Homo sapiens: one gene and its partners. The protein of the gene in region 4 interacts with the protein of the main gene of each other region in a pairwise test. Each region holds a gene or a part of one and is shown on either strand. Other genes may lie near its edges. The genes, in order: BMP2K, PDGFRL, DDO, BAAT, MUTYH and MLH3.

The links.
Region 1: the proteins of BAAT (region 4) and BMP2K interact in a two-hybrid assay, tested with the Homo sapiens proteins (one large-scale study listed by IntAct).
Region 2: the proteins of BAAT (region 4) and PDGFRL interact in a two-hybrid assay, tested with the Homo sapiens proteins (one large-scale study listed by BioGRID and IntAct).
Region 3: the proteins of BAAT (region 4) and DDO come close enough for resonance energy transfer, tested with the Homo sapiens proteins (one large-scale study listed by BioGRID).
Region 5: the proteins of BAAT (region 4) and MUTYH interact in a two-hybrid assay, tested with the Homo sapiens proteins (one large-scale study listed by BioGRID and IntAct).
Region 6: the proteins of BAAT (region 4) and MLH3 interact in a two-hybrid assay, tested with the Homo sapiens proteins (one large-scale study listed by BioGRID and IntAct).

Annotation. Positions count from the first base shown.
Region 1 is NC_000004.12:78,908,850-78,912,349, forward strand, and holds part of BMP2K (BMP-2-inducible protein kinase), read left to right. Parts: intron 1-1,760; coding exon 1,761-3,184; 3' UTR 3,185-3,500. UniProt on the Homo sapiens protein: May be involved in osteoblast differentiation.
Region 2 is NC_000008.11:17,622,216-17,625,715, forward strand, and holds part of PDGFRL (platelet-derived growth factor receptor-like protein precursor), read left to right. Parts: intron 1-3,500.
Region 3 is NC_000006.12:110,391,576-110,395,075, reverse strand, and holds the end of DDO (D-aspartate oxidase), read left to right. Parts: intron 1-1,733; coding exon 1,734-2,301; 3' UTR 2,302-3,292; downstream 3,293-3,500. UniProt on the Homo sapiens protein: Selectively catalyzes the oxidative deamination of acidic amino acids. Suppresses the level of D-aspartate in the brain, an amino acid that can act as an agonist for glutamate receptors. Protects the organism from the toxicity of D-amino acids.
Region 4 is NC_000009.12:101,368,007-101,371,506, reverse strand, and holds part of BAAT (bile acid-CoA:amino acid N-acyltransferase), read left to right. Parts: intron 1-43; 5' UTR 44-102; coding exon 103-568; intron 569-3,184; coding exon 3,185-3,387; intron 3,388-3,500. UniProt on the Homo sapiens protein: Catalyzes the amidation of bile acids (BAs) with the amino acids taurine and glycine. More than 95% of the BAs are N-acyl amidates with glycine and taurine.
Region 5 is NC_000001.11:45,329,971-45,333,470, reverse strand, and holds part of MUTYH (adenine DNA glycosylase), read left to right. Parts: coding exon 1-58; intron 59-146; coding exon 147-186; intron 187-300; coding exon 301-374; intron 375-511; coding exon 512-553; intron 554-636; coding exon 637-708; intron 709-783; coding exon 784-897; intron 898-982; coding exon 983-1,080; intron 1,081-1,160; coding exon 1,161-1,305; intron 1,306-1,384; coding exon 1,385-1,448; intron 1,449-1,621; coding exon 1,622-1,810; intron 1,811-1,914; coding exon 1,915-2,051; intron 2,052-2,136; coding exon 2,137-2,289; intron 2,290-2,913; coding exon 2,914-2,955; intron 2,956-3,402; coding exon of another isoform or gene 3,403-3,405; exon of another isoform or gene 3,406-3,500. UniProt on the Homo sapiens protein: Involved in oxidative DNA damage repair. Initiates repair of A*oxoG to C*G by removing the inappropriately paired adenine base from the DNA backbone. Possesses both adenine and 2-OH-A DNA glycosylase activities.
Region 6 is NC_000014.9:75,034,468-75,037,967, reverse strand, and holds part of MLH3 (DNA mismatch repair protein Mlh3), read left to right. Parts: intron 1-3,500. UniProt on the Homo sapiens protein: Probably involved in the repair of mismatches in DNA.

The DNA of each region.
Region 1 (3,500 bases), on a different chromosome or scaffold from region 4:
CATCAGGGTAAATGGGTTTCTATCACGCCACTCATTCTTTTCTTTCTGTTAATGGTGCTGCCATCCACCAAGAGTTTTCAATCTCTATTTTTTCTACTTTGACCCACCCTGCCACCACTGTCATGTCATCTAGGCCACCAAAATCTCTAACTTGCATTACTATAATTTCCTTTTGCCTGAACTCCCCTTCTTACCTTCCCTTAGTCTTTTTTTTTTTTTTTTTTTTTTTTGAGACAGTTCGCTCTTTGGCCCAGACTGGAGTGCAGTGGTGCGATCTTGGCTCACTGCAACCTCTGTCTTCCAGTTTCAAGCGATTCTCCTGGCTCAGCTGGCACCTGCCAACATGCCTGGCTAATTTTTCTATTTTTAGTAGAGATGGGGTTTCACCATGTTGGCCAGGCTGGTCTCAAACTCCTGACCTCGTGATCCACCCGCCTTGGCCTCCCAAAGTGCTGGGATTACAGGGGTGAGCCACCGCACCCAGCCCCCTTAGTGTTTTTCTATAGAGCAGTCATTTTTTTTTATGTAAACCTAATCATGACACCTATTTTAATAATAGCTTTCCATTATACATGGAATTTTGAATTAGATGTATAATGAAATATACGCTGCTTATCATGGCCTTAGAGGACCTTCACAGTCTGGCCTTTTCCAGTCTTCCTTACCTCATGTTGTACCTGATCCTCCCTTGCTCACTATATTCCAGCCACAATAGCCTATTTTCAGCCCCTTAAATATGTCTTTATATATGCCATTGCTTTTATTGGAAGCTGCTTCCAGCTTATCCTTTGCATGGCTGGGCTCCTTCTCATTGTTCAATCCTAACTGTCGTCTCCTTAGGGAGGTCTTCACCACTGTCCAAAGTAGGTTTATGCGCCCATTTCCCTGCTGTCCTTTATTTCAGAGCACTAGTCACAATTTATGTTTACTTACAACCTCTGACTGTAAACCCCTGAAAGCAGAAACCATGTTTCTTTTACTCACCAATGTATAATCAGTGTATAGCAAAGTGCCCTATATTTCTTTCGTTGAATGAACTCAGAAAATGAAGTGACTGAATGGATTCTGAGCTAAAAACATCTCCAGATGGTTTAGATTTGTTTTTAAAGGAATCTCGCTTTTTTAATGTAATGTATAGATATTATAATTAAAGGAAGTCATATCATCTAGAGAAGGCAGATGTTTTTGGTACAGTCTCCATTTAGTATCTGGTCCTTAGCTTTGGTGAGGCCATTCATGCTAAGTCAATTCAAAAGATAGTGGTTTATAAAAAATACAATGCTGATTTAAAAAAATAGTGAAACAAATACGTAACTGAGCAGGCAGGCTGTTCATGCTTGTTGATCTCTATGGGAAAACTTTACAAGAGTTGAAATATAAGCAGGAGGTATTTGGTGAATGTGAAATCTGAGCTTTCAGAATTAGCAGAATAATGTTATTTTGGTGGTGGGGTGAAGAAAATTTGCTAGTCTACTACATTCTGTGTGCTATAAATAAAATTTGGCTGTCAGTGAGAGTACGATGAGGCAGGGTGTAGGGTCCAGATATGAATAAGTCTGTCTACATTAAGACTTAACTATCTACCTGAGGTCAAATGCATTCTCTAAGTCTAATGACGAAGAATTGACAACATTATTTTTTCCTCTAAGGGAACTCGTATGAGGGATTTGTAATGCCATGTGTAATACATATTAACATTTAGTGCAAGAGGATTCTGAAATGCATTGGAATGCTGTAATAATATTTATTTGAACTTGCAGGTTCTCCTGAAAAGAAAGCTGAACATTCATCTATAAATCAAGAAAATGGCACTGCAAACCCTATCAAGAACGGTAAAACAAGTCCAGCATCTAAAGATCAGCGGACTGGAAAGAAAACCTCAGTACAGGGTCAAGTGCAAAAGGGGAATGATGAATCTGAAAGTGATTTTGAATCAGATCCCCCTTCTCCTAAGAGCAGTGAAGAGGAAGAGCAAGATGATGAAGAAGTTCTTCAGGGGGAACAAGGAGATTTTAATGATGATGATACTGAACCAGAAAATCTGGGTCATAGGCCTCTCCTCATGGATTCTGAAGATGAGGAAGAAGAGGAGAAACATAGCTCTGATTCTGATTATGAGCAGGCTAAAGCAAAGTACAGTGACATGAGCTCTGTCTACAGAGACAGATCTGGCAGTGGACCAACCCAAGATCTTAATACAATACTCCTCACCTCAGCCCAATTATCCTCTGATGTTGCAGTGGAGACTCCCAAACAGGAGTTTGATGTATTTGGCGCTGTCCCCTTCTTTGCAGTGCGTGCTCAACAGCCCCAGCAAGAAAAGAATGAAAAGAACCTCCCTCAACACAGGTTTCCTGCTGCAGGACTGGAGCAGGAGGAATTTGATGTATTCACAAAGGCGCCTTTTAGCAAGAAGGTGAATGTACAAGAATGCCATGCAGTGGGGCCTGAGGCACATACTATCCCTGGTTATCCCAAAAGTGTAGATGTATTTGGCTCCACTCCATTTCAGCCCTTCCTCACATCAACAAGTAAAAGTGAAAGCAATGAGGACCTTTTTGGGCTTGTGCCCTTTGATGAAATAACGGGGAGCCAGCAGCAAAAAGTCAAACAGCGCAGCTTACAGAAACTGTCCTCTCGCCAAAGGCGCACAAAGCAGGATATGTCCAAAAGTAATGGGAAGCGGCATCATGGCACGCCAACTAGCACAAAGAAGACTTTGAAGCCTACCTATCGCACTCCAGAGAGGGCTCGCAGGCACAAAAAAGTGGGCCGCCGAGACTCTCAAAGTAGCAATGAATTTTTAACCATCTCAGACTCCAAGGAGAACATTAGTGTTGCACTGACTGATGGGAAAGATAGGGGGAATGTCTTACAACCTGAGGAGAGCCTGTTGGACCCCTTCGGTGCCAAGCCCTTCCATTCTCCAGACCTGTCATGGCACCCTCCACATCAGGGCCTGAGCGACATCCGTGCTGATCACAATACTGTCCTGCCAGGGCGGCCAAGACAAAATTCACTACATGGGTCATTCCATAGTGCAGATGTATTGAAAATGGATGATTTTGGTGCCGTGCCCTTTACAGAACTTGTGGTGCAAAGCATCACTCCACATCAGTCCCAACAGTCCCAACCAGTCGAATTAGACCCATTTGGTGCTGCTCCATTTCCTTCTAAACAGTAGATACTTCTGATGGATTCTCGGCATTAACTCCTGTTTCAAAAAAGTGTGAACAGTTTTATGAATTTGAAAGAAAATTTGGTAGCTCTTTATAGCATTCATTCTTAAAGATCAGTCAGAATAGGTGATTTCTAAATAAACCAAATAGAAGAATGAAGTATCTCTACAGGGTAGTAACTTGATTCCTCTTCAGGAGAAAAGGGAGCTAAATTGCAAGCTCTAACTAAGGGTTTCTGCTACTGACATCACAACACAGAAATGCAAGTGTGGTACTTCCAGTGAAAGCACATGGCACCTTTCTAGGTGTGTAGCCACTGAG
Region 2 (3,500 bases), on a different chromosome or scaffold from region 4:
TGAAGTTTAGGGGATGAAGTTCTCCAGCAAGGTTCAGAAGTCAGTAAGAGCTTTCAGGAATCTTACAAAGCCACCCTCGTCCTATTGTCGTCCAAGACATTTCAGGTGAAACCAGAATCCTTTGTTAGTGCCTGGGCAGGGACTTTCATGAAATTTCTCCATGCCTTGAATCCACCTACCTTTCAGACGTAGACCTAGACATAGGCCTAGACCTAGACATAGGCCTATGACCCAAAGGATGTTATGCCCTGACCATTAAAGAATGTTTTAGTACAATCTTATGTATTTGTCCTTTCCTGCCCAAATAGCTCCTCTCTGGCAAGGAGATGCATTAGTAGGGTATGCTGCAGTTCTGGAAGCACATGTATCTCATTTTGATGCAGACTTTTTACTCCTTAGTTCAGAGATCCAAGTTCTTGTCTCATGCCAGGAAAACTTAGGCACACAGACACTTAAAAGAGTGCGTGGAGTAGAATTTATTATGCGAAAAGGAAAGCTCTCAGCAAAAAGAGGGGTCCTGAAAGCAGGTTGCAGGTTGCTCTCCACACAATTGAATACAAGGGCTTCTATGTTCCCTCGGTAGGGCTGGGTTCCCTGTTTGTAAGAGGCGTGAATTCCTGGCGGCTCCACCCCATCCTTTCAGTGTACCTGCAGGCCCTTAATCTGAGTCACTCCACGTTGATTTATTTCCCTTACTGCATGTGTGTTAAGGGATGGAATTTTTCACTGGGGGTATGTTTAGGCAAGACCCCTGTGCACAATGACCTTGGTAGGTCAGAGGTTCTCTAAGGACATTCCCGTATCTGCTTAGGAGAGTTCTCTGCCTCCTGCCTCTATCAGTTTCATTCCACAACATCCCTGGGAAATAAGCAAAAGCTATTTTATTATCTCCAAAATACTAGAAGTACTAATGCTCATGCTGAGCCTCAATGTTCCAGGACCTGTAGTGGCACAATAAGGAGCCAAACCTGTTTTTCTGACCCAGGATCCAGTGTTTTTACTGCCTTGAACCTTTTGTAGGACAAGGTGAAGGATGGACTGATAGCCAGATTCTAGCTAGCATAACTGGTGTTGTCAGGAGAATTGCTAATAATTGTTCATAGGCAATCTCTTTGGATCTTCATTTTGGAACTCGCTACACAAGATTGTAAATGTGCCCTTTGTATTATACCATGCTGTGAAGCAACAGTGGAAAAAGCAACCAACTAAGATGAATAAAAGTCTGTTATTCAAGTCAATGACTGATTCCACATTTCAAGTTGCAGAAGGAAGATTCTTTGCCAAGATTAGCACTGTTGTGTCTTCCCAAAGTATTGGTCGAGGTTTTGAACTGCAGGCTTAGCTTGGGCAGAATATCCTATTAATATTATGGGCTCTTGGCCAGGCATGGTAGCTCATACCTGTAATCCAGCACTTTGGGAGGCCACGGCGGGCGGATCACCTGAGGTCAGGAGTTCGAGAACAGCCTGGCCAACATGGAGAAATCCCATCTCTACAAAAATACAAAAGTTAGCTGGGCGTGGTGGTGCACAGTTGTGCTCCCAGCTGCTCAGGAGGCTGAAGCAGGAGGATCGCCTGAATCTCGGAGTTGGTGGTTGCAGTGAGTCAAGATTGCGCCACTGCACTCCAACCTGGGCGACAGAGCAAGACTTTACCTCAAAAAAAAAAAATACGGGCTCTCTTTGAGTTTTGGAGGCGGAACCTTTTTGTTTTTTTTTTAACTGAACTAATTTTGGGAACCAAAGAAAAGCTAAAATATATTCATTCCAACTATCAAGAAACTTTGATCAAAAAAAATAAATGCTGTAACACATTTGACCTAATGTGTTATACATCATTTATTTTTTCTTATTTGTCAACACTAAGCTAGGAGTCCAGTTGGATTTTTACTATAGGGTTTGGCAATTTGTCTTTTCAAGCATGGATGGCTTTGAGAAACCAAGATGGGCTGTTACAGAAGCTGAGGTTCTCACTGCTGGCTCAGGATTCTTTCAGAACATGTGTTTCCTGGCTACCCATGTGGAGAAATGTTTGTCATTCATTATGTTTGTATGTTTCCTAGAGTTTGATTAAAAACACTGAAGCTTCTTTTGGGGGACTGACTGTTGTTAGTGTGCAGTTTGTGATTAAATAATTGCCGTATGTATTTCCTCTTTCATCTTGATCCAGGAGGATCTTGGAAGGTTTTCCCTGCTTCTCTTTCACTTCTTATTGTAGTATAACATATGTAAAGAAAAACATTCAAATTCTCAGAATACAGCTCAATAAATTATCCTTAAGCAAACAGGCACATGTAACTCCCACCCAGATCAAGGATGAGAACATTACCAGCAGCAGAGCTTTCTCATAGTAAAAGGCTGAGGCTCTAATTTTTATACGTAGGAAAACCACATTAATAAGTACTTTCCTGGCTGGGTGCAGTGGCTCATGCCTATAATCCCCTAGCACTTTGGGAAGCCGAGGCAGGCGGATCACTTGAGGTCAGGAGTTCAAGACCAGCCTAACCAACATGGCGAAACTCCCTCTGTACTAAAATGCAAAAATTAGGTGGGCATGGTGGCACACGCCTGTAATTCCAGCTACTCGGGAGGCTGAGGCACAAGAATTGCTTACACCCAGGAGGCAGCGAGTCAAAGTTGCAGTGAGCCGAGATGGCACCACTGCATTCCAGCCTGGGTGACGGAGTGAGACTGTCTCAAAATACTGAATTTGTTGTAATTTGGATTTAGTTTATAGCTTGTTAACTTGCATTTATTTATTTTTTTATTTTTATTTTTATTTATTATTATTATACTTTAAGTTTTAGGGTACATGTGCACAATGTGCAGGTTAGTTACATATGTATACATGTGCCATGCTGGTGTGCTGCACCCATTAACTCGTCATTTAGCATTAGGTATATCTCCTAAAGCTATCCCTCCCCCCCCCGCATTTTTTTGTTTTTTTGTCTTTTTTGAGATGGAGTCTCCCTCTGTTGCCAGATTGGAGTGCAGTGGCACCATCTCAGCTCACTGCAACCTCCGACTCCCCGGTTCGAGCGATTCTCCTGCCTCAGCCTCCCGAGTAGCTGGGATTACAGGCATGCGCCACAGTGCCCAACGAATCTTTGTATTTTTAGCAGAGATGGGGTTTCACCATGTTGTCCAGGAGGGTCTCGGTCTCCTGACCTCATGATCCGCCTGCCTTGGCCTCCCAAAGTGCCGGGATTACAGGCGTGAGCCACTGCACCTGGTCGAGTTTTTTTTTTTAATCTAAAATCCCATGTGTTTAGTTTTCTTTAAGTAAAACATTTGTCTTCTAGATAAGTGGATATAAATACATTTGCAGGGGACATGTGTAATCTATAATTATTAAAACAAACTTCAACACTTTGTTATTGTTGATGGAAGCTACGGATTGCAAATATATTTTTAAAGCAACTGGTTTGGTCACATTTCAAAGTATGTATTATAGTATAAGAAGTAAAGTATATATTATAGTATAAGAAGTAAGGCTGGGAA
Region 3 (3,500 bases), on a different chromosome or scaffold from region 4:
ATCAAGTTGACACATAAATTAACCATAGCAGGTCCAAACCAGGATTTCATATTGTCTTTAGTATTGGCTAACACTTACTTCCAGTCCACTTGGTGTGGGGCACTTAGCTAGGTCATAGGGATGGTAAGAAACATAAGATACAGTCTCTCCCCTTGAGGAATTCGTGATTTATTGATATCGGTCCTCTAAGATGTATTGTGATTGACGACTGTTCAAAGTTGTGGCCATTATTTTATTGTAACCTCACAACCATCCTGTGAGACAGGCAAGGGAGGTATCCTCCCCATGATGCAGATGAGGAAACTGAGATTTGAAGTGAGGTGAGTTGGCCAAGAGCTCAAAGCTAATGTGAGGCAGAGCTGGGATATAAAGCCAGGCTTTCTGATTTCACACCACTTCTCCTGTAGAACTTAGTCCATTCTGCCAAGCATTTACACTTCTGTCTGCCAGTTCCTCTGTCAGCCCTTGACGAAGGGCACTGTCACTCACACCCTTCTGGTCCCTCTTAGCAGTGCCCCGCATGCAAGCATTCGGCCTGCGTCTATTGAACAGAGCTGCTGATAGTCTCTTTCTCTATTCTACAAGTGACCTGTGAATAAGATTACATGTCCTGGGGGTTATTGTTTATTGGGTAGACTTTCCATTTTGCAAGATTAAAAAAGTTCTGGAGGCCAGGCACGGTGGCTCATGCCTATAATCCCAGCACTTTGGGAGGCAGAGGCAGGTGGATCGACTGAGCTCATGAGTTGCAGACCAGCCTGGGCAACATGGCAAAACCCTGTCTCTATCAAAAATACAAAAAAATTAGCCGGGCATGGTGGCACACACCTGTGGTCTCAGCTACTCAGGAGGCTGAGGTGGGAGGATCACTTAAGCCAAGGAAGTCAAGGCTGCAGTGAGCTGAGATCACGCCACTGCACTCCAGCCTGGGTGACAGAGTGAGACCCCATCTCAGAAAAAAAAAAAATATTCTGAAGATGGATAGTGCATATGGATGGTGATGGCGGTTGCACAACAAGGTAAATGTGCTTAATACTACTGAACTTTACACTTAAAAATCGTCAAAATGATAAATTTTATGTTAAGTGTATTTTACCTTGATTTAAATAAAGACTACAGGTACTGGATAAACCATTTCTTTTCACTATTGATATAGTTGGTCCAAAAAATATAGTAATTACCAACCACAGCTGCCATTTAGCTCATCAGCTACAAATATTTTGTGTTCTTCTCGTGCTAACATAGTTGTGGACATAAAGCTGGTGGGGATATGACCCCTGTACCTTTTAGTTAGGGAGACCAGGCTAATACAAAGGATCATGCAAGAGTTAACAATATGAGATAAAATGTTTAAGGTAGTAAATTTAGGTGTTAAATAAGTGGTATAAATAAGAAATGCTTGGACATTTAAAATACCAAATCAACTTGGCATTTATTCAGCATCTAGAATAATGTAGGAATTTTACAAAATTTTAAAAGGGCAAAGCATATAATTTCCTTTGTTTTGAATTTTCAAGTGGTTTCCATTTAGATTCAACTTTAGAAATCCCCAGTTCCTAGGATGTGAAGCAGTTGATGGCTAGAATTTGGCCTGACTGGGCCCTGGAAGCTCCTGAGGTGTTTGTTCATCAGATCATCACCTAATTTTTGTTCCTGGGTTCCTTTTCTTTATTTCCTGGAAGTAGTTGATCAGGTCGCTAACAAATATTCACTTCATGGCCTCTCTTCCGTAGGATAAAGGGAAGTGGAGGCTGGACACTCACTCGGCGAATAGAAGACCTGTGGGAACTTCATCCGTCCTTTGACATCGTGGTCAACTGTTCAGGCCTTGGAAGCAGACAGCTTGCAGGAGACTCAAAGATTTTCCCTGTAAGGGGCCAAGTCCTCCAAGTTCAGGCTCCCTGGGTGGAGCATTTTATCCGAGATGGCAGTGGGCTGACATATATTTATCCTGGTACATCCCATGTAACCCTAGGTGGAACTAGGCAAAAAGGGGACTGGAATCTGTCCCCGGATGCAGAAAATAGCAGAGAGATTCTTTCCCGATGCTGTGCTCTGGAGCCCTCCCTCCACGGAGCCTGCAACATCAGGGAGAAGGTGGGCTTGAGGCCCTACAGGCCAGGCGTGCGACTGCAGACAGAGCTCCTTGCGCGAGATGGACAGAGGCTGCCTGTAGTCCACCACTATGGCCATGGGAGTGGGGGCATCTCAGTGCACTGGGGCACTGCTCTGGAGGCCGCCAGGCTGGTGAGCGAGTGTGTCCATGCCCTCAGGACCCCCATTCCCAAGTCAAACCTGTAGATGACATAAAATGACAGCAAAGAGACTGAGAGACTGTTGATCAAAGCACAGAACAGGTTCAAATAACTTTTCCACTGCATGAAAGTTTAATTAGACATTTCTTTGTTTTCAACATTAGAAGTGGTGTAACATGTAAGCTGAGCACGGTGGCATGCCTATAGTCCCAGCTACTTGAGAGGCTGAGGCAGGAGGATTGTTGAGCCCAGGAGTTTGAGTGCAATCTGGGTAACATTTTTTAGAGGTGCCAGTTCCCACCTCTAAAAAAAACACCAACAACAAAAGAAATGATGCAACATGTAGGCTTACTTAGGAAGTCCAGCATTAATGGCATAGGGCATAAAGCTCTATTTTTTGTTAAAAATACTTCTTATAGAGTAAAATTTATTTAGAACTGATGTCCAAGGACCTATGCAGATTTATATGAATGTTGGAAGCTATAGAGATTTTGATATCATTTGGCTTATAAATCCACAGGAGGAGATAATGTATGGAAAACATTTAAATCACTGTCAATTGCAGAGCTGCCTGTGATCTTCTTAGGTTATAGCCAAGTCAGCAACATAATTCCTCTAAATAAAATTACATTGTGCTCACACAGTGCTGGATTATTACATTTAATTGAAGACAAAGCATGCTTGCTCCTAGTACTAGCAGCAAGCTTTTCCTCCCCTCAGCTGGTAATGATGGTAGGAGACAGAGATGAAGTTGCCTATGTATGTCATATCAATTCAATAGCTGCCTGGGGTCAAACACCTAGGGGTTGTACATTCCATTACTGTAAATGATTGAGAGCTGGTTTGTGGTATGGTTGGCTTTGCCTAAGCATTTTTGAAGATGAACAGCATGTGCAGCCAAAGAACTAATTTGCTAATTAAGGTGGAACAATCATTCTGAATGAAATATAATCAGAGTACTCCGCAGTTTGTTAAGAAGTATTGGGGAGGAGGGGAATGTGTCTCACAATAAAATGAGTTGGAATTGTTGAGTTAAATGAATTTAACCTGTTTTTTGACTCAGGCCTACTCAGAGCCTCTAATGTGTGCACGTGTATTGTGAATCCTCTAGAGAGCTTGGGTGGACGGAAAATGAAGTGCTGGTATTGAAGTAAAGAGGCTTGAGGAGGCTGGGCACGGTGGCTCACGCCTGCAATCCCAGTACTTTGGTGCAATCCCAGCACTTTGGGAGGCTGAGGTAGGTGG
Region 4 (3,500 bases):
ATCTCTACTTTATTTTACTGCTCCTCTTTCTTTCTTTTTTGAGGTTTTGAGGTTTTGCTGAAGATATTCCTGAAGAATCATCCCAGGTGCCACACTAAAAAAATGATCCAGTTGACAGCTACCCCTGTGAGTGCACTTGTTGATGAGCCAGTGCATATCCGAGCTACAGGCCTGATTCCCTTTCAGATGGTGAGTTTTCAGGCATCACTGGAAGATGAAAACGGAGACATGTTTTATTCTCAAGCCCACTATAGGGCCAATGAATTCGGTGAGGTGGACCTGAATCATGCTTCTTCACTTGGAGGGGATTATATGGGAGTCCACCCCATGGGTCTCTTCTGGTCTCTGAAACCTGAAAAGCTATTAACAAGACTGTTGAAAAGAGATGTGATGAATAGGCCTTTCCAGGTCCAAGTAAAACTTTATGACTTAGAGTTAATAGTGAACAATAAAGTTGCCAGTGCTCCAAAGGCCAGCCTGACTTTGGAGAGGTGGTATGTGGCACCTGGTGTCACACGAATTAAGGTTCGAGAAGGCCGCCTTCGAGGAGCTCTCTTTCTCCCTCCAGGTGAGTAGAATTACTCTGCTTATTGTTATTCTTGTTTTTCCACTTTAAATACATTATCCGTCTAGAAATTTAGCTTGAATAGCTTGTAGAATTACTCTGGTTATTGTTATTATTGTTTTTCCACCTTAAATGCATTATCCCTCCAGAAATTTAACTTGAATATGGATAATACCTAGAGCACTGCTTCCTGCCTTACAATCAATGTTAACCTTGGGTCTGAACAAGAATGTGGTAATATTCTACTCCAGCTCAAGTTTCATCTCAACAATTCTGAAGCTTGTCTAAGAATGTGACTACATATAGTTTATGTAGTCCCTACATTATGGGCTTTACATAGCTTTGGATTTATGCTAAATTTTTCTGCACTGAAGCCAAGATGGGAGGATTAATAGAGGCCAACAGTTCAAGACCAGCCTGGGCAACATAGCCAAACTCTTTCTCTATAAATACTAAAAAATTAGCTGGGTGTGGTAGCAGGCACCTGTAGTCCCAGCTACTCAGCAGGGGCTGAGGAGGAAAGATCTCTTGAGCCTCGGAGATTGAGGCTGCAGTGAGCCATGTTCCTGATACTGCACTCCAGCCTGGGTGACAAAGCAAAAAAAAAAAAAAAAAAAAAAAGGATAATGCATGCAAAATGCTTATCATAGAACCTGGCAATACTAAGCACTCAAAGATGAACAAATGTTAGACAAAACTTTCTATGATCTGACTTCTGCATACTTCTTCAGCCTTATCTTATAGCTCTAATCTTATAGCTATATGAAGACCCTCATCTTGATGTGATGGAAACCATATCCCAGATCCTTGTACAGGCTCTGTCAGGTTGAGTTTCAGTTTAGGCATGGGTTATTACCTTGTTGCCACAACAAGCTGGAGATAAGATGGACTGAAAGATTGCAGCAAATATAGAGGATGCAAGAAACTTTGTAACCTCTAGCTTCATAAATATTACATATTTATAGACTATTCCATGAATCTAATAATATAGCATGCTTCCTAATGGCTATAAAACTTATCAGAACGCTCATAGTTTCCCACAGAAATCTCCAAATACCAATAAATAAGTGGTTTAAACATGTTTTGGTACATTTCTCAGAGTTTATTGTGGGGCCAAATAAAGCAAAGTTAATTTCTCAGAAGAAAAAAAAGCAATAAAAGCTTTCCTTTCCAAATTCACCATAACCCATGTACTTGTTCGGATAAATTTGAGTTTTTAAAATACCCAGTAAATAGCATATAGACCACTTTATTATGTATAGGGACCAAGAATTAAATGGCACAAATTGCTGTGCCTCTATTATCCCACCCCAGTTAAAAATCTGCTTATTGGTACAGGCCTTCCATCTTGGGATGATGTGCTGGTTTAGGGTGTGCTGTTTGTGAATCCTCTTGAACACTGCATGTGCTGGGTCTCCCGCTTCAAGTGTGTTTTCTATCGGGGGAACAAAAGAGAGCTGAGTTGTGTGAGGTTATAAGGAGGTTGAGTCAGATCACAAATATTTCATGACTGTAACATTCTTCCAAGATAAAAGACTCAGTACTTTTAAGTGTTCCCCCATTCTTGTCAATCAGATGGTAAAAACATCCTTATTCATTTATGCAAATGATAATTTAAAACTAAGATATATTCAACTTCACTTTATTTATTATTTATTCATTGTACTTAATTATAGTAATTTTTAAAAATTCCCAATACTCCTTTAAATCAAGCCACTTCTTTCAAATATGGATGGGATCACTCTGTCTTAGTTAAAACCACTTATAAAAGAATAGAATATCCCTAATAAGTGCATCGTAAGTTTCTTTCAGTGTGTGGGCTCTGCTTTATTTTGGAAAAAAGCTGCCTATACAGAGTGACTGTAGAATGATACTCTGGCCGTCCCTACTTTTTACCACGTGTCAGCCTGCAAAAAATGAACATGGCGTTATTGAATAAAGGGGCTCATCATTTACATAAGCTTAGGTGTAAGGTTTCATCACTGTATAGTCAAATGAATGTAGCAGAGCAGTGTTAAGTCAGGATTTTAGCTAATACAATCATTTAAAAAATGTTTTTGAATCATGTATTTCTTTGAGAACCAAATTAAATCTGTGGAACCTCTCATAAGTAAAATTCACCTACAAATATATATATACCATATTTTGCATATATTGTAATTTCAGGATCTTCACAGATTTCCTAAAGCTTATTTGTATACTTCTTTATAGGTTAAGAAGCCCTGGCCTAATTTATATGCCTTTCTTTACAACAAGAGTATAGAAACTACTGTGAATTCCCATTTCCTCAGCTGCAGAGAGTAAATATGTCTCTGAATGTAGTTCCTAGTCAAACGTCTAGATATTGTGTTCCATTATATATTCAATGGACCTTAATTCTGCCCCAGGTAGAAGGCTGAAAGTGTTGGAATTGTATTTGAATATTTAAATGTTAATTTCAAAATTACATTTGAATGTAATTTTGCATTTCTGCTTTGTGTTCTCATGTTTTTATTATCTTTTATTTATTTATTTTATCTTTTATTATCTAATCATTTGTATTTCTGCTTTGTATTTTCAAGTTTTCTTATCTTTTCCACACCTTCTCTTCATGTACAATTCTGTTTTGTTATTTTTCAGGAGAGGGTCTCTTCCCAGGGGTAATTGATTTGTTTGGTGGTTTGGGTGGGCTGCTTGAATTTCGGGCCAGCCTCCTAGCCAGTCGTGGCTTCGCCTCCTTGGCCTTGGCTTACCATAACTATGAAGACCTGCCCCGCAAACCAGAAGTAACAGATTTGGAATATTTTGAGGAGGCTGCCAACTTTCTCCTGAGACATCCAAAGGTAATTTTTGTCTTTTCAGTAGGTTTGAGTCCCTGGGGTTTTTTTGTTTCTGTTTTTGTTTTTGTTAAAAGACAGGGTCTTGCTCCGTCACCCAGGCTGGAGTGCAGTGGCAT
Region 5 (3,500 bases), on a different chromosome or scaffold from region 4:
AGGGAGCCTGCTAAGCTGGTACGACCAAGAGAAACGGGACCTACCATGGAGAAGACGGGTAGGCAGGCGAGGAGCAGGGACAGTGGGTGGGAGGCAGGCACCCAGCCCCCTCCACCCTAACTCCTCATCTGGGGTTGCATTGACAGGCAGAAGATGAGATGGACCTGGACAGGCGGGCATATGCTGGTCAGTACATCTCCTGAGAGCAGGGCCACTTTGCCTCGAGGCCCTTGGGTCTGGGGGCTGTGGGCCAGGTAGGGGCAGGTCAGCAGTGTCCTCATGCCAACCCCTTTCCCCCAGTGTGGGTCTCAGAGGTCATGCTGCAGCAGACCCAGGTTGCCACTGTGATCAACTACTATACCGGATGGATGCAGGTGACTCCAGGGGAGGAAGGGAAGGGTCATGGGTCAGACCCCAGATGAGAGCCTCTACTTTGGGGTGGGTGTAGAGAAGGCTTCCTCTACCACCTTCACCCTTGACCTTGTCTCTTTCTGCCTGCCTGTGGCTATAGAAGTGGCCTACACTGCAGGACCTGGCCAGTGCTTCCCTGGAGGTGAGAGCCACCCTAGGGTAGGGGAAATAGGAACAATAGAGGGACTGACGGGTGATCTCTTTGACCTCTGATCCTACCCACAGGAGGTGAATCAACTCTGGGCTGGCCTGGGCTACTATTCTCGTGGCCGGCGGCTGCAGGAGGGAGCTCGGAAGGTAAGGGGATGGCAGGAGGGTAGGAACCCAGGAGTCTTGGGTGTCTTATAATCTTGAGTCTTGCACTCCAATCAGGTGGTAGAGGAGCTAGGGGGCCACATGCCACGTACAGCAGAGACCCTGCAGCAGCTCCTGCCTGGCGTGGGGCGCTACACAGCTGGGGCCATTGCCTCTATCGCCTTTGGCCAGGTGATCTCACAGCCCACCCCCACTTTGTGCGTGCCCAGCCTCCTTCCTCCCAGCCCAGGCTAACTCTTTGGCCCCTCTGTGCCAGGCAACCGGTGTGGTGGATGGCAACGTAGCACGGGTGCTGTGCCGTGTCCGAGCCATTGGTGCTGATCCCAGCAGCACCCTTGTTTCCCAGCAGCTCTGGTAGGATGTTGGGGTAACAAGGGTGCTTCAGGGGTGTCTGCAAAGGAGCTCTGCTTCACAGCAGTGTTCCCTTCTTTTAGGGGTCTAGCCCAGCAGCTGGTGGACCCAGCCCGGCCAGGAGATTTCAACCAAGCAGCCATGGAGCTAGGGGCCACAGTGTGTACCCCACAGCGCCCACTGTGCAGCCAGTGCCCTGTGGAGAGCCTGTGCCGGGCACGCCAGAGAGTAAGCCTACTGGGGAAGGGGCAGTGAGAAGTCCTAAGGAGTGACTCTGCCCTATGACACTCAACCCTGTGCCTCTCAGGTGGAGCAGGAACAGCTCTTAGCCTCAGGGAGCCTGTCGGGCAGTCCTGACGTGGAGGAGTGTGGTGAGCACCAAACCTAGCCCCCACCCCAACCCTTCCTGGCCCAGTCAGAAGCCCCATTCCAGTTCTTCCTCTAACCTGAGTAAGATTCTGCAGAACCCGGCCAAAGCCCACTCTCTAGGTTGGCCCCTAAAGCCCTCTTGGCTTGAGTAGGGTTCGGGGATCTCCGTTCCCAGCTCCCAACACTGGACAGTGCCACCTGTGCCTGCCTCCCTCGGAGCCCTGGGACCAGACCCTGGGAGTGGTCAACTTCCCCAGAAAGGCCAGCCGCAAGCCCCCCAGGGAGGAGAGCTCTGCCACCTGTGTTCTGGAACAGCCTGGGGCCCTTGGGGCCCAAATTCTGCTGGTGCAGAGGCCCAACTCAGGTACCTGGATACTGGGCGTGGAGGGCAGTGGCATGAGTAACAAGAGAGAATGGAGGGAATCGGCAGCTGAGGCCTGACCCCTGCCTGGCTGCCCTCCCTCTCAGGTCTGCTGGCAGGACTGTGGGAGTTCCCGTCCGTGACCTGGGAGCCCTCAGAGCAGCTTCAGCGCAAGGCCCTGCTGCAGGAACTACAGCGTTGGGCTGGGCCCCTCCCAGCCACGCACCTCCGGCACCTTGGGGAGGTAAGTGAGCAGCGGAATAGCCAAGGATGTTGGCTTTTGAGGCTATATCCACAGGCCTATTTGAACCCCTTGACCCTTCCTCCAGGTTGTCCACACCTTCTCTCACATCAAGCTGACATATCAAGTATATGGGCTGGCCTTGGAAGGGCAGACCCCAGTGACCACCGTACCACCAGGTGCTCGCTGGCTGACGCAGGAGGAATTTCACACCGCAGCTGTTTCCACCGCCATGAAAAAGGCACTACCTTTGTTGTCTTTGTTGTACTTCCTTGTGTTTCCTACATGTTCTACATGAATATATTACTGTGTAAACAGGAAAAAAAGCATTTTTTTTTGAGACGGAGAATCGCTCTGTTGCCCAGGCTGGAGTGCAATGGCGCTATCTCGGTTGACTGCAACCTCCATCTCCCGGGTTCAAGTGATTCTCCTGCCTCAGCTTCCTGAGTAGCTCGGATTACAGGCGCCCGCCACCATGCCTGGCTAATTTTTGTATTTTTAGTAGAGATGAGGTTTCACCATGCTGGCCAGGCTGGTCTCCAACTCTTGACCTCAAGTGATCCGCCCGCCTCAGCCTCCCAGAATGCTGGGATTACAGGTGTGAGCTACCACACCCAGCCATGATTTTTTGTATTTTTAGAGATGGGGTTTCACCATGTTGGCCAGGCTGGTCTCAAACTCCTGGCCTCAAGTGATCCACCCGACTTGGCCTCCCAAAATGCTGGGATTATAGGCGTGAGCCACCATGCCTGGCCAAAAAAGCATATTTTAAACAAAAGTACTGGGACATGAAGTTAAGGGCAGAACACCGGTTTATCTCTTTTGCAAAAAGTGCCAGCCCTCACCTCCCTGTCTTCTTGTCTAGGTTTTCCGTGTGTATCAGGGCCAACAGCCAGGGACCTGTATGGTAAGTCTCCTAGGCCTCTCCCAACCGTGTCTCCCCAGGCCTGAGTCCATAGGTTTTTAGTCAGTTAACTAACGAATGTCTGGGTGAACATTCTCCACTCCAGGCTTCACTGGAGGGAGGAATAGTTCTTGACCTGGAGACCTTCCATTGTGGGGTGCAGGGTAGAGGGAAAGGAAAAAAATGATGAGGACTCTCCAGTGTCACAGGTGTGTGAAATGCCTGTACTGAGTTTTGTGGGATATGAATTGTGGAGCCATCAGTTCTTTTTTTTTTTTTTTTTTTTTTTTGAGACAGTCTCACTGTCACCCAAGCTAGAGTGCAGTGGCCCGATCTCGGCTCACTGCAATCTCCCACAACTGGATTAAAGCGATTCTCCTGCCTCAGTCTCCCAAGTAGCTGGGATTACAGGTGCCTGCTACCACACCCAACTAATTTTTGTATTTTTAGTAGAGACAGGGTTTCACCATGTTGACTAGGCTGGTCTCGAACTCCTGACCTCAAGTGATCTGCCCATCTTGGCCTCCCAAAGTGCTGGGATTACAGGC
Region 6 (3,500 bases), on a different chromosome or scaffold from region 4:
AGATTGCGCTATTACACTCCAGCCTGGGCGACAGACATTTAGTTTTATGTTCATACACATACATATACTCAGGATGCACATTAAACTATCAAGAGTATTTACTTTGGGAGTGAAAATGAGGGTGTGCAAAGGAGATATTTCAACTTTTACTCTTTTTGTCTTTTTTTTTTCCTTTTTGTGGAGAACGGGGTCTCGCTATATTGCCCAGGTAGGTCTCGAACTCCTGGGCTTAAGCTATCCTTCCACCTCTGCCTCCCTAACAGCTGGGATTACAGGTGTAAGCCACCACGCCCAGCCCATCTTTTATTCTTTTAAATATTTTCTATTGTTTGACTTTTTAATAATATTTTCATGTTTTCCCTTTATAATAATAGAAAGTGTATATAATGAACTCTGCTAGGTTTGTCAATATTTACACAGAATCTCTTGGTGACCTGCTCTAATGAAACAATAATAGTTTGTAAATATATTAACTCATTCAACAAGTATTAATTGAGTGCCCATTGTATGCCAGGGACTGTACCAGGCCCTAGGGATACAATAATGAGAAAAGATATATATGCAAGAGAAAAAAATAATTACACAAACATAAAATTTTAGTTCTAGCCCCTGTAATGGAGAAAGAGATACAAGATGCTCTAAGAACCTGTATTGGGAGATTTGATTTCATCAGGGAGTTCAGGGAAGTGCTTCTTGGTAAAATGAGGTCTGAATATGAATATGAGTTAACTAAGTAAAGAAAGGAGGGAACAACCATGCAATTTGTGATTTATTCTCCTCAGTGAGTGGAAACAGGGCAAGGGGAACTGGAGATGAGGCTAGAGAAGTAGGTAGGAGTCAGATCTTAAATGCCAGCTACAAGCTTTGCTTTGTCCCAATACTGTTGGAAACCATTGAAAGCTTTTTTTTTTCATTTTTTATCATTTGTATTTTGATGTTGTTTTTGGGGTGGTACATGTCACATCACATTTGCATTTTAAAAAGATTGCTCTGGTTGTAGTGTGGAGAATGGAGTAGGAGTAGGGGTGGAGTCCCAGTTAACTGTAGATTGACTGTTAAAAGAATATTGCAATATCTGAGACATGGTTAGATGGGACCAGGGTGGACTAGAGAGCAGTGAATGTATTGGAAAGATATTTAGGAGATAGAGTCAGCAGGGCTTGGTGATGGATTGGATATGGGGAAAGTATGTAAAAGATGACTTCTGGTGTTCTGGCCTCCATAGCTGAGTTGATGATGTTGCAGGACCCGTGTTGCAGGCAGAGCAGAGAGGATGAAAATCATGAGTTCAGTCTTTGAAATGCTCCAGAAGAGATGTCAAGGTGGCCAGGCACGGTGGCTCACGCCTGTAATCCCAGCACTTTGGGAGGCCGAGGTGGGTGGATCACCTGAGGTCAGGAGTTGAGACCAGCCTGGCCAACATGCTGAAACGCTGTCTCTACTAAAAATACAAAAATTAGCTGGACATGGTGGCAGATGCCTGTAATCCCAGCTACTCGGGAGGCTGAGGCAGAGAATTGCTTTAACCCGGGAGGCGGAGGTTGCAGTGCGCCAAGATCGCACCACTGCACTCCAGCCTGGGTGACAGAGCGAAACTCTGTCAAAAAAATAAAATAAAAAGATGTCAAGAATGTGGTTGGATATTACAAGTCTGGCCTAGACAAGTGTTCTGACATGGAGATACAAATTTGAGCCATCAGATGCAGAAAAGTGATCACTGAAACCCTGGATATAAATGTTATCACCTAGAAAAAAGAAGAGTGAGGAGAGGTCTTGAATCTAGAATAATTCTAGCACTTAAGAGCTCGGTAGAAGAGGATGAACCAGCAAAAGAGACTGTGAAAGAACAGCTAGAGAAATAGGAAGAAAACAGAAGAATGTTATGTTGGAAAACCAGGATGTCATGCCAAACGCTGCCAAGACATTAAGTAAGATGAGGATCATCTGATTTTGTGACAGTAGAGATTAGGGATTTTAGCAAGTGAGAGCTGTTTCAGAGAATAGACAGGACGAGATGCTGATGGTGCTAATGGAGACTGCAAGGAGATACTCAGAAATGTGCCCATGACACGGAAGAGGGACTACAGAGGGTGAGGGTGACAGAGGACCTTTTTTTTTTAATGGGAGAAACTTGAGCACATTTGCAAGGGATGCCTGATGGGATAAAGTCCCTGAAAAGGCCTGAGTGGCTGAGCCCTGAGCAGCAGTGGAGGGCTGGCTCCAGCTTGATAGTACCTGCAGGCAAGTGCTAAAGTTTTAGAGCATTTATTCTCTATGTATTTCAAAATATTCCCTTTACCTTGTTTAGTAAATGTCATAGCAGATCAAAGGCAAATTAACCTAAAGTTCTGTCAGAATTATCATGAATATAGAATTTGTGAAGATCAAATTCCTATAGTTTTACTATTTCTAGAAAAGTAATAGTTTTTTGTTGTTGTTGTTTTTGAGACGAAGTTTCACTCTTGTTGCCCAGGCTGGAGTGCAATGGTGCAATCTCAGCTCACTGCAACCTCCGCCTCCTGGGTTCAAGCGGTTCACCAGCCTCAGCCTTCCAAGTAGCTGGAATTACAGGCACCCGCCACCCACGCCCAGCTAATTTTGTATTTTTAGTAGAGACGGGGTTTCTCCATGTTGGCCAGGCTGGTCTCGAACTCCTGATCTCAGGTGATCCGCCCGCCTTGGCCTCCCAAAGTGCTGGGATTACAGGCATGAGCCAACCCGCCTGGCCAATTTTTTTTTTAAGTTTTCATTATCTGGAATTCTTTGTTGTTTTTGAGATCAGAATCTCTACTAATGATACTCAAGATGGGTGTAACTACAAAATCTGCAGATGTTGAAAGAAGCAAAATGGATCTGTTGAAATTTCTCTTTTTTTCTTTACTTTTTTTTTTTTTTTTTTTTTTTTGAGATGGAGTCTTGCTCTGTCGCCCAGGTGGGATTGCAGTGGTGCAATCTCGGCTCACTGCAGTCTCCCCTTCCCGAGTTCAAGGAATTCTTCTGCCTCAGCCTCCCAAGTAGCTGGGACTACAGGCACCTGCCACCACGCCCGGCTAATTCTTGTATTTTTAGTAGAGACAGGGTTTCACCATGTTGGTCAGCTGATCTTGAATTCCTGACCTCAAGTGATCTGCCCTCCTCAGCCTCCCAAAGTGTTGGGATTACAGGCATGAGCCACAGGCCCAGCCAGAATCTGTGTTTTAATAAGATCCCCAGGGGGTATGTGATATGAACGTTTGAGAAGCCCAAGTCTAAGGCAGGATAAACATGGCCCGAGGGGAATCTGGGCATCACCTCTTTCTGTACAGCCAGGGAGATGGGAATGGTTTTTACATTTTTTAATGGTTGGGAAAAAAAAAGAAGACTATTTCTTGACACATTAAAATTATATGAAATTAGTATTTCAGTGTCCATAAATAAAGTTTTATTGGAACACAGCTACGATATTCACATATTGTCTATGGCTGCTTTGGCTCAAAAAGAATTGTTGAGTAGGCATGACA